Linked DNA regions of Homo sapiens: region 2 is linked to region 1. The links come from fine-mapping of genetic effects on plasma protein levels. Region 1 holds a variant in brackets. A gene starts in the other region. All regions are shown on their reverse strands.

Evidence for each region. A credible set is the group of variants that fine-mapping cannot tell apart. PIP is the posterior inclusion probability: the model's chance that the variant is causal. The UK Biobank Pharma Proteomics Project read protein levels with antibody pairs (Olink). The fine-mapping took linkage between variants from a reference panel, not from the people measured, so its PIPs are less certain.
Region 2: it holds the start of CCL25, and the variant in region 1 is the best candidate, but not a certain one, in a credible set for the plasma level of the CCL25 protein (UK Biobank, PIP 0.58).

What each region holds. Positions count from the first base shown.
Region 1 is chr20:32,397,949-32,402,339 of GRCh38, reverse strand. All of the region lies in intron 4 of ASXL1 (ASXL transcriptional regulator 1), which reads right to left. Among named protein-coding and RNA genes, the nearest start is that of ASXL1, 42 kb to the right of the region's middle. The variant A/TA (reference allele first, on the strand shown) is at 2,238.
Region 2 is chr19:8,050,213-8,054,603 of GRCh38, reverse strand. It overlaps CCL25 (C-C motif chemokine ligand 25), which reads right to left and starts at 1,844. Exons shown (of 6, transcript NM_005624.4): 1 at 1,782-1,844; 2 at 1,482-1,604. The coding sequence starts at 1,554. RefSeq lists silencers at 3,842-3,901, 4,202-4,291.

The DNA of each region.
Region 1 (4,391 bases):
CACATGCCTCTAATCCCAGCACTTTGGGAGGCTGAGGCAGGAGGATAGATTGAGCCTAGGAGTTGGAGACCAACCACAAAGCAAGACTCCATCTCTGTTTGTAATTTAGGGGGGAGAAATGCTCTCAATGGAAGAATGGGTAAACTGTAGTGTGCCCAAGAATAGAATACTACTCACCAATAAAAAGAAACAGTGTTAATACATAGGACTTGGATCGATTTCAAAGGCATTTTGCCGAGTTAAAAAAGAAAAGCCAATCTCAAAGGTAACATATTATATGATTCTATTTACAGTAGTCACCACTTACCCTTGCTTTCAGCTACGCATGGTCAACTGCAGCCTGAAAATATTACAGTATTTTGAGAGAGAAACAACATTCACATAACTTTTATTATAGTATATTGTTATAATTTTTTATTATTGTTAATCTCTTACTGTGCCTAATTTATAAATTAAATTTCATCATAGGCGTATATGTATAGTAGGCCAGGTGCAGTGGCTCACGCCTGTAATCCCAGCACTTTGGGAGGCTAAGGTGGGTGGATCACTTGAGGTCAGGAGTTCGAGACCAGCCTGGCCAACATGGTGAAACCCCACCTCAACTAAAAATACAAAAAATTAGCCTGCGTGGTAACACGAACCTGTAATCCCAGTTACCCAGGAGGCTGAGGCAGAAGAATCGCTTGAACCTGTGAGGTGCAGATTGCAGTGAGCCAAGATCACACCACTGCACCCTAGTCTGGGTGACGAGAGTGAGACTCCGTCTCAAAAAAAAAAAGGGGGGGGGGGAAAAAACACACACACACACACACACACATATATGGTTCAGTACTATAGCTGGTTTCAGGCATCCACTGGGGGTCTTAGAACATATCACCACAGATAACGGGGACTACTGTATTATGACATTCTGAGAAAGATAAAATTATAGCGAAAGTGATAAAATTCAGACAACTGGTAGCTGCCAGGATTAAAGTTGGTTGGTTGATTGGTGGTGGAGGCTGGAAGGAGGACATGATGACTACACAGGAGTAGTACAAAGGCATTTCATTAAAATGATGGAATACTTCTATAACCTGACTAGTGATAATTACACGAAATCTATACACGTGATAAAACTTCATAGAACTGTATATTAACCATGCCAGCTCAAAATAGTTCATGTGAAAATATGAAATAAGGCATGAGGTTTAGTTAACACTATTATACCAATGTCAATTTCCTAGTTTTAATAACTATACTATGGTTATGTAAAATGTTATCATGGGGGAAGTGGGTGAAAGACACCTCAGAACTCTGTATTATTTCTGCAGCTTTTAGTAAACCTAAAATTATTTCTAAAAGAAAAGTTGAAAAAAACTTTTCAAGCACAACAGGGACCAGATTTACCCTCTCACCTTAAACCACTAAAATAACTAACAAAACATGAAACTATAGCTTTCAAGATGCTGCGCAGCAGGCAATGAGAGACAGTAATCCCCAAAGGAAGAGAAACAAAGATATGAGTCCTATGATGGCCAAACTTAGTGCCTGAAGAGAGTTTCCTGGGCACCATGCAGAAGCAGAAGCCCTATGGAGGCTGCAGAACTCAAAATTGAAGACAGCGAGCTCAGCTCAGAGTGCAGGACTTAGGCAGCTAGAATTCATGGGACAATACCACACAGTAGAGGGCTGAGGAGATCTAGAGAGGTACTCACTGAGTACTGAGTGGCCCATAGTGTGATGAAACTACCCAAGACCATGGGCAGCAAGGAGAGGAAAACAACACCCAAAAGAATTATGAACAGTACTCTGCCCTTACCCACTCAAGTAGCTATTAGACTGGAAATCTCAAGACAACCCTCAAGATTTGGGAAGAATCTTGTCTCAGAAGTGAGGAAGAATTAGCCATAAACCAACTACTACACCGTTCCCAGCTAACAAATCTTACAAACAAGACCTAAAGGAATCAACGGTTTTCAAGTGACTTAACTGCATCCAATAACAAAGTTAAAGAACATATGTAGAAATACAAATATCCCCAGCACCCAACGAGGTAAAACTCTCTATGTCTGAAATCCAATCAAAGATCACCAGGCAAGAGGCAAGGAAAAAAAAGTATACTAAAGAGAATAGTCAATTGCAACCAACCCTGAAATGACACAGATGTTAGAATGAGTACACAAGGACATTATAAGAGTTATATCTGCATTTCATATATTCAAAAACTTAAGTAGAGACAGGAAAGATTTTTTTTT[A/TA]AACCAAATCAAAATTCTAACGATAAAAAAAGGTAAAATATGGCCGGGCATGGTGGCTCACACCTGTAATCCCATCAATTTGGGAGGCTGAGGCAAGCAGATCACTTGAGGTCAGGAGTTCAAGACCAGCCTGGCCAACATGGCGAAACCCCGTCTCTACTACAAATACAAAAATGAGCCAGGCGTAGTGGCGGGTGCCTGTAGTCCCAGCTACTCGGGAGGCTGAGGTGGGAGGATCGCTTGAAACCAGGAGGCGGAGGTTGTAGTGAGCTGAAATTGTGCCACTGCACCCCAGCCCAGGCAACAGAGTGAGACTCAGTCTTTAAAAAAAAAAAAAAAAAAAAAAAAAAAAAAAGAGTAAAATATGTGAGATTTTTAAAAATGCTAAATGTGACTAACTTCAGATTACACACTGCAAAAGAAAGTAAATTCAAAGGCACAGAAATAGAATCTTTCAAATAAAACACAGGTTAAAACAAAAACTATCAGTAAGCTATGGGGCAACTTCAAGCAGCCTAATGTTTGGATAAAGAGTACCTGACTAAAAAGAAAAGAGAAATTAAATGGAAAATAATTTGAAAAAAATGGCCAAAAAAAAAAAAAATCCGAAACCTGAAGAAAGCTATAAACCGACATATCCAAGAACATCAATGAACCACAAGCACAATAAACACAAGAAAAACCATACTGGCATATCATAATCTAATGCTCAAAACCAGTAATAAAGAGAAAATAATAAAAGCAGCAAGGAAAAAAAAAGCATGCAAAATACAGAACAAAGATAGCAGATTTCTTGTTAGAAACAAGGTGAGTGACAAGACAGTGGTATATCATCTTTAAAGTATTGAAAGAAAAAAAAACCTGTCAACTACGTATTCTTTTTTTTTTCTTTGAAACGAGTCTTGCTCTTGTCGCCCAGGCTAGAGTGCAGTGGCATGATCTTGGCTAACTGCAAACTCCGCTTCCCGGGTTCAAGCAATCCTCCTGCCTCAGCCTTCCAAGTAGCTGGGATTACAAGGTACCCGCCACCATGCCTGACTAATTTTTGTATTTTTAGTAAAGATGGGGTTTCACTGTGTTGGCCAGGCTGGGCCAACTCGGCCTCCCAAAGTGCTGGGATTATAGGCATGAGCCACCACCCCTGGCCCAACCTTATTCTTAATCCAGCAAAAGTATCTTACTAAAACAAAACCAGGCCGGGCGCGGTGGCTCACGCCTGTAATCCCAGCACTTTGGGAGGCCGAGGCGGGCGGATCACGAGGTCAGGAGATCGAGACCATCCCAGCTAAAACGGTGAAACCCCGTCTCTACTAAAAATACAAAAAATGAGCCGGGCGTAGTGGCGGGCGCCTGTAGTCCCAGCTACTTGGGAGGCTGAGGCAGGAGAATGGCGTGAACCCGGCAGGTGGAGCTTGCAGTGAGCCGAGATCCCGCCACTGCACTCCAGCCTGGGCGACAGAGCAAGACTCCGTCTCAAAAAAAAAAAACAAAAAAAAAAACAAACAAAAAAAACAAAACCAGCCACAAAAGGCTACATACGCTATGATTCCATTTGTATAAAATATCCAGAACAGGTAAATCCACAGAAACAGAGCAGACTGGTGTTTGCCAGAAGCGAGTGAAGGGAAAAGGACAGAGAGAAAAATGCTTAATAAATACGGGGTTTTCTTTCAAAGAAAAAAAAATGTTTTGGAACCAGATAAAGATGGTTACCCAACACTGTGAATGTACTAAATGCCACTTAACTGTGCACTTTAAAATGGTTAAGGCTGAGAATCGCTTGAACCCAGGAGGCAGATGTTGCAGTGAGCCGAGATCGCGTCACTGCACTCCAGCCTGGGCTACAGAGTGAGACTCCATCTCAGAAAATATATATAAAATTAAAAAAATAAAATGGTTAATTTTGTTATGTGAATTTCATCTCAATTTTTAAAAGAGAAACAACCTATTGATTCATTTAACAACATGAATGAATTTTAAATGTATTTTTCTAAGGAAAGAAACCACACCCAAAAGGATACATAACAATAACTTTATAACAGTGTTTTAACTAGATACTATAAGGCTACAAACGAACCGATCTATACGTAAATACCCTACTACAATTGGTAAATTTGTTTCACATCTAAGGAAACATGACAACTAAATGCAATG
Region 2 (4,391 bases), not on the chromosome of region 1:
GCTGATGAGATAGTGGAGGAAGCTGGGGTGCAATTCTCTGCCTAAATGGCCTTTGGAGTTCTCTGCAATCTCACCTCTGCCAGAACTAACCTCCAGAGGCCGAGTCTGAGTCCCTGCAGAGCCCAGCCCAGCAGGAGCAGGGAAAGGGAGGACTCGAGCCCTCCAGGTGTCTCCCAACCGCGGCCTCTGAGGGCAAGGGGCAGCGCATTCTGTTGGAACCTCGGACTGCAGTGCCAGGCAGGTAGTTCCCAAGGCTGGAGGCCAGGATCGAAGGGCTGGGCTGGGCCTGGCTCTGATAGCAAAACAATCAGACCACAGCCCAACCCCCTTCCCAGGCAAAGGCCAAGGACTTGGACCCATCAGACCCAGCCGAGGGGCAGGTGGGTCAGGTGGGGGCAGACAGGGAAGGAGGGTGGGACCCTGGGTCTGCCGCCCAGCCAGGGACCCTGCTTTGGCCAGCTGCTGAAACTCAGAGGATGTAGGACCCAGTGTCAGGGCTCCCGTGGGGACACCCCAGGCCCAGGAATTGTCCTTTGGCGACTGAAATCCTCAAGTGCTTGCTCTGCGGTAGGGAGTGGGGAAGAAGGAAAGAGTTCCCTATTAATAACAGGAACAGTTACTATTGCCGCCGCCAGACATGAGGCCTAGTCTTTTGCAGGCATGAGCTCACTGGACCCTCAAGTCAGAGCCATGCAGTGGGAATTTTAGATTCCCACTTTGCAGCTGAGGAAACGGAGGCTCCTAAAGGTTTAGGAAGCCGGGCACAGTGGCTCAAACCTGTAATCCTAGCACTTTGGGAGGCTGAGGCAGGCGGATCGCCTGAGATCAGGAGATCGAGACTACTCTGGCCAACATAGTGAAACCCCATCTCTACTAAAAAATACAAAAATTAGCCGGGCATGGTACACACGCCTGTAGTCCCAGCTACTTGGGAGGCTGAGGCAGAAGGATCGCTTGAGCCCAGGAGGCGGAGGTTGCAGTGAGCCAAGATCGCGCCACTGCACTCCAGCCAGGGTGACAGAGTGAGACTCTGTCTCAAAAAAAAAAAAAAAAAAATGGTTTAGGAGCAACTAACTCTCAGCTGGACTGCATGGAGGGACCAGGATGGGAATCCACTCTTGTCAGTCTCCAGGGCCCTGATCTCCAACCCCACCCCTGGCTCGGCAGGATTAGGATTCTACAATACATCCCTGGCAGTAACTGGCTTTGCCCACAGCTGGAAGCCACCCTCTGCTCCCTCACATCTTTAGGAGTCTTGCAAAAGACTCCATGGGGCTCTCGAAGAAGGAACTGGGGACTCTCCATCTCCCCGACCCCATCCCAAGAGCTAACCAAACACCAGGAGTTCCTGCATGTCAGGAGCGGGAGAATTCAGTGGAGATGGGATTGGGGAGACTTCCGGAGGAGATAAGAGACAAAAGGGGTGGGGTGGGGGCATGGGGAGAGGGGCACTTGGTGGTAGGCATTGCCGAACACAGTACCTTGGGTGTGGACAGCGGGGGCCCAGGCTCCCAGGAAGCCGGCCACCAGGCAGGCCAGGAGCCACAGGTTCATGCTGCAGGCGGGTCCTCCTCCCTGGGCACCTGGACGAATAACGGGGCCACCTGGGGTCGTGGAGGGAAGTGGTAAGGACTGAGGAAGAGGAGGGGAGTGGGTACTGGGAACATCCCCCCTCTTAAGCCCCAGGCATATGGCAAGGGAAGGAGGTTGTATAAAGTAGGAACAAGTTGTGCTGGAGGGAAAAGCTGTTCATCTCAGTCATGTTCAAGGAAAAGACTCACCGATATCCACTGGGTCAAGGGAGCTGATGCCCGCCGGGCTGTAGGCCAAGCTGTCCCATCTGCAGGACCAACACGCTGAGCTTCACTCTTTATAGACAGAGCCCCACCCAGCCACCCCCTGCCCGCCCTCCTCCCTTCCTCCTCCTCTCCACCTGCACTCTCAGCCTCTGGAATTCTCCCTCTTCTACAGCAAGCTCCAACCTCGACCCACAGGCCCCCTTGCCTCCCCACTCCCCATCCCAGGCCTCCCAGCCAGCACCCCTACTGTCTCCAGAAAGGGCCTTTTCCCCTGTTTCCCTCACCTGCACACACCTGGTGGACACTGGCTGCCTGCGAACAAGGCTCAGACTGCCTTGAGCCCCCAAACAAGCCCTTACCTTCATGCTCCCCCCGCCCTCAAGCCACCTGTTCCCTGGTGGGTCCCCAACTTCACTCCATTTCCCTCTCCTTCCACACCATGGTTAGGTAACTTAGCATGTCACAGAAATCCTCTGGTTGTGATCACAGGCAAATCCATAGAAACAGAAAGTAAATTAGCGGTGGCCACAGGATGGGGGGAGGGGAGAATGAAGGACTGACTGTGAGAGGGTATGGGTTTCCTTTTGTTCTGAAATTAGATGAGAGTGATGGTTACATAACTCTATGAATATAGTCAGCACGGCACAATGGTGCACCTCCCACCGGTGAACAACCCCAACAAGAAAGAAACTCTCTAGGCCAGGCATGGTGGCTCATGTCTGTAAGCCCAACACTTTGGGAGGCCGAGGCCAGAGGATTGCTTGAGCCCAGGAGCTCAAGACCACCCCGGGCAATATAGAGAGACCTGCGTCACTACAAAAATTTTTTAAAAAATTAGCCTGACGTAGTAGTGCATACCTGTAGTCCCAGCCACTCAGGAGGCTGAGGTGTGAGGATTGCTTGAGCCTTGGAGGTTGAGGCTGCAGTGAGCTGTGATCATGCCACTGCACTCCAGCCTGGGCAACAGAGCAAGACCCTGTCTCAAAAAATGGAAAAAAAAACGGTGGCCGGACACAGTGGCTCACACCTGTAATACCAGCACTTTGGGAGGCCGAGGCAGGCGGATCCTCTGAGGTCAGGAGTTCGAGACCAGCCTGGCCAACATGGCAAAACCCCATCTCTACTAAAATTACAAAAATTAGCCGAGTGTGGTGGGGGGGCACCTGTAATTCCAGCTACTCAGGAGGCTGAGGCAGGAGAATCGCTTGAACCCGGGAGGCGGAGGTTGCAGTGAGCCGAGATTGGGCCACTGCATTCCAGCCTGGGCGACAAGAGTGAAACTCTGTCTCAAAAAAAAAAAAAAAAAAAAAAACAAAAGAAAAAGAAAAAATGGAAGAAATGTTTTGTTTTTGGAAGAAAAGCCAGGAGCCCCGGGTAGCCATGCCCTCAGGAAGCAAAGCAACATTCACCGAGAAGGCATGTCTTTTTTTTTTTTCTTCTGAGACGGAGTCTTGCTCTTTTGCCCAGGCTGGAGTGCGGTGGCGCTGTCTCGGCTCACTGCAAGCTCCGTCTCCCGGGTTCACGCCATTCTCCTGCCTCAGCCTCCCGAGTAGCTGGGACTACAGGCTCCCGCCACCACGCCTGGCTAATTTTTTGTATTTTTAGTAGAGACGGGGTTTCACCATGTTAGCCAGGATGGGAGAAGGCATGTCTTCTTTCCCTGGGGCAGCAGGACCCAGCCAGGACACAGGGACTGGGGGAGACACGAGGTGAAGATTAGGGAGGGCGAAAGGAGCGCTGCAGAGGCCGCACAGCTGATTGCTTTAAACTTTTTATCGCCTGCATCCATAGCTACATCTGACCTCTGTGGGTATTTATCACATCCTAAACTCCTTTCTCATTTCTCCCCTTCCACTGGGAGCCCAGAGGCGGCGGCCCCTAGCCTACTTCCCTGTCCCAAACCACATGGCCGGGTGAGTGGGGCTTAGAGGTGGGGCCGGGCCTGGTGGGTGTGGCTTCTAGCCGGGGACGTGACTAGATAAATGACACTTAGAGCCCAGGGGCAGGGCTGGGTGGGCGTGGCTTATGGCTATGGGCGGGGCTTGCTATATGGCTCCGAGTCAGGGGCAGGGCAGAGTGAGTGGGATTTAAGACAGTGGGCGGAGCCTGACAGATGGCGCTTATGGTAAGGGGCCGGGCTTTGTAGGAGGGGCTTAGACTGGGGCGGGGCTTGCACGGTCAGCCCCGCCCCACCAGAGCAGTTAAGACGCGTCGGGGGCAGGTGCTCTCACCCGTCCCGTTGCTGCGGCCAGTGGCAGCCCACGGGCCGGGGCGCTGTTCCAGTTCCTCCGCCTCTTGCTCTGGGTGGGTGAGGCTGGACCAGGACGCGGCTCCGCGTGGCTGCGAGCGTGGGGAAGCGGCGTGGCGGGCTGGGGCCAGCCTCTCCGCTACGGCTCACTGCCCCCTACCTTCCCAACCCGCGGGCCGCGGCCAAGACGGTGTTACCCAGACTTGGGGGAGGTCCCCAACGTGAGTCTCCCTCCCTGCCTCACCCCTCACTGTTTGTCCCGCCGGCAGCCTTCACGGGGAGGAAGGGTTCCCAGTAAGGGGGCCCTCCAGGGACCAGCAAGCACGGAGCACTGGGGTGGGCGC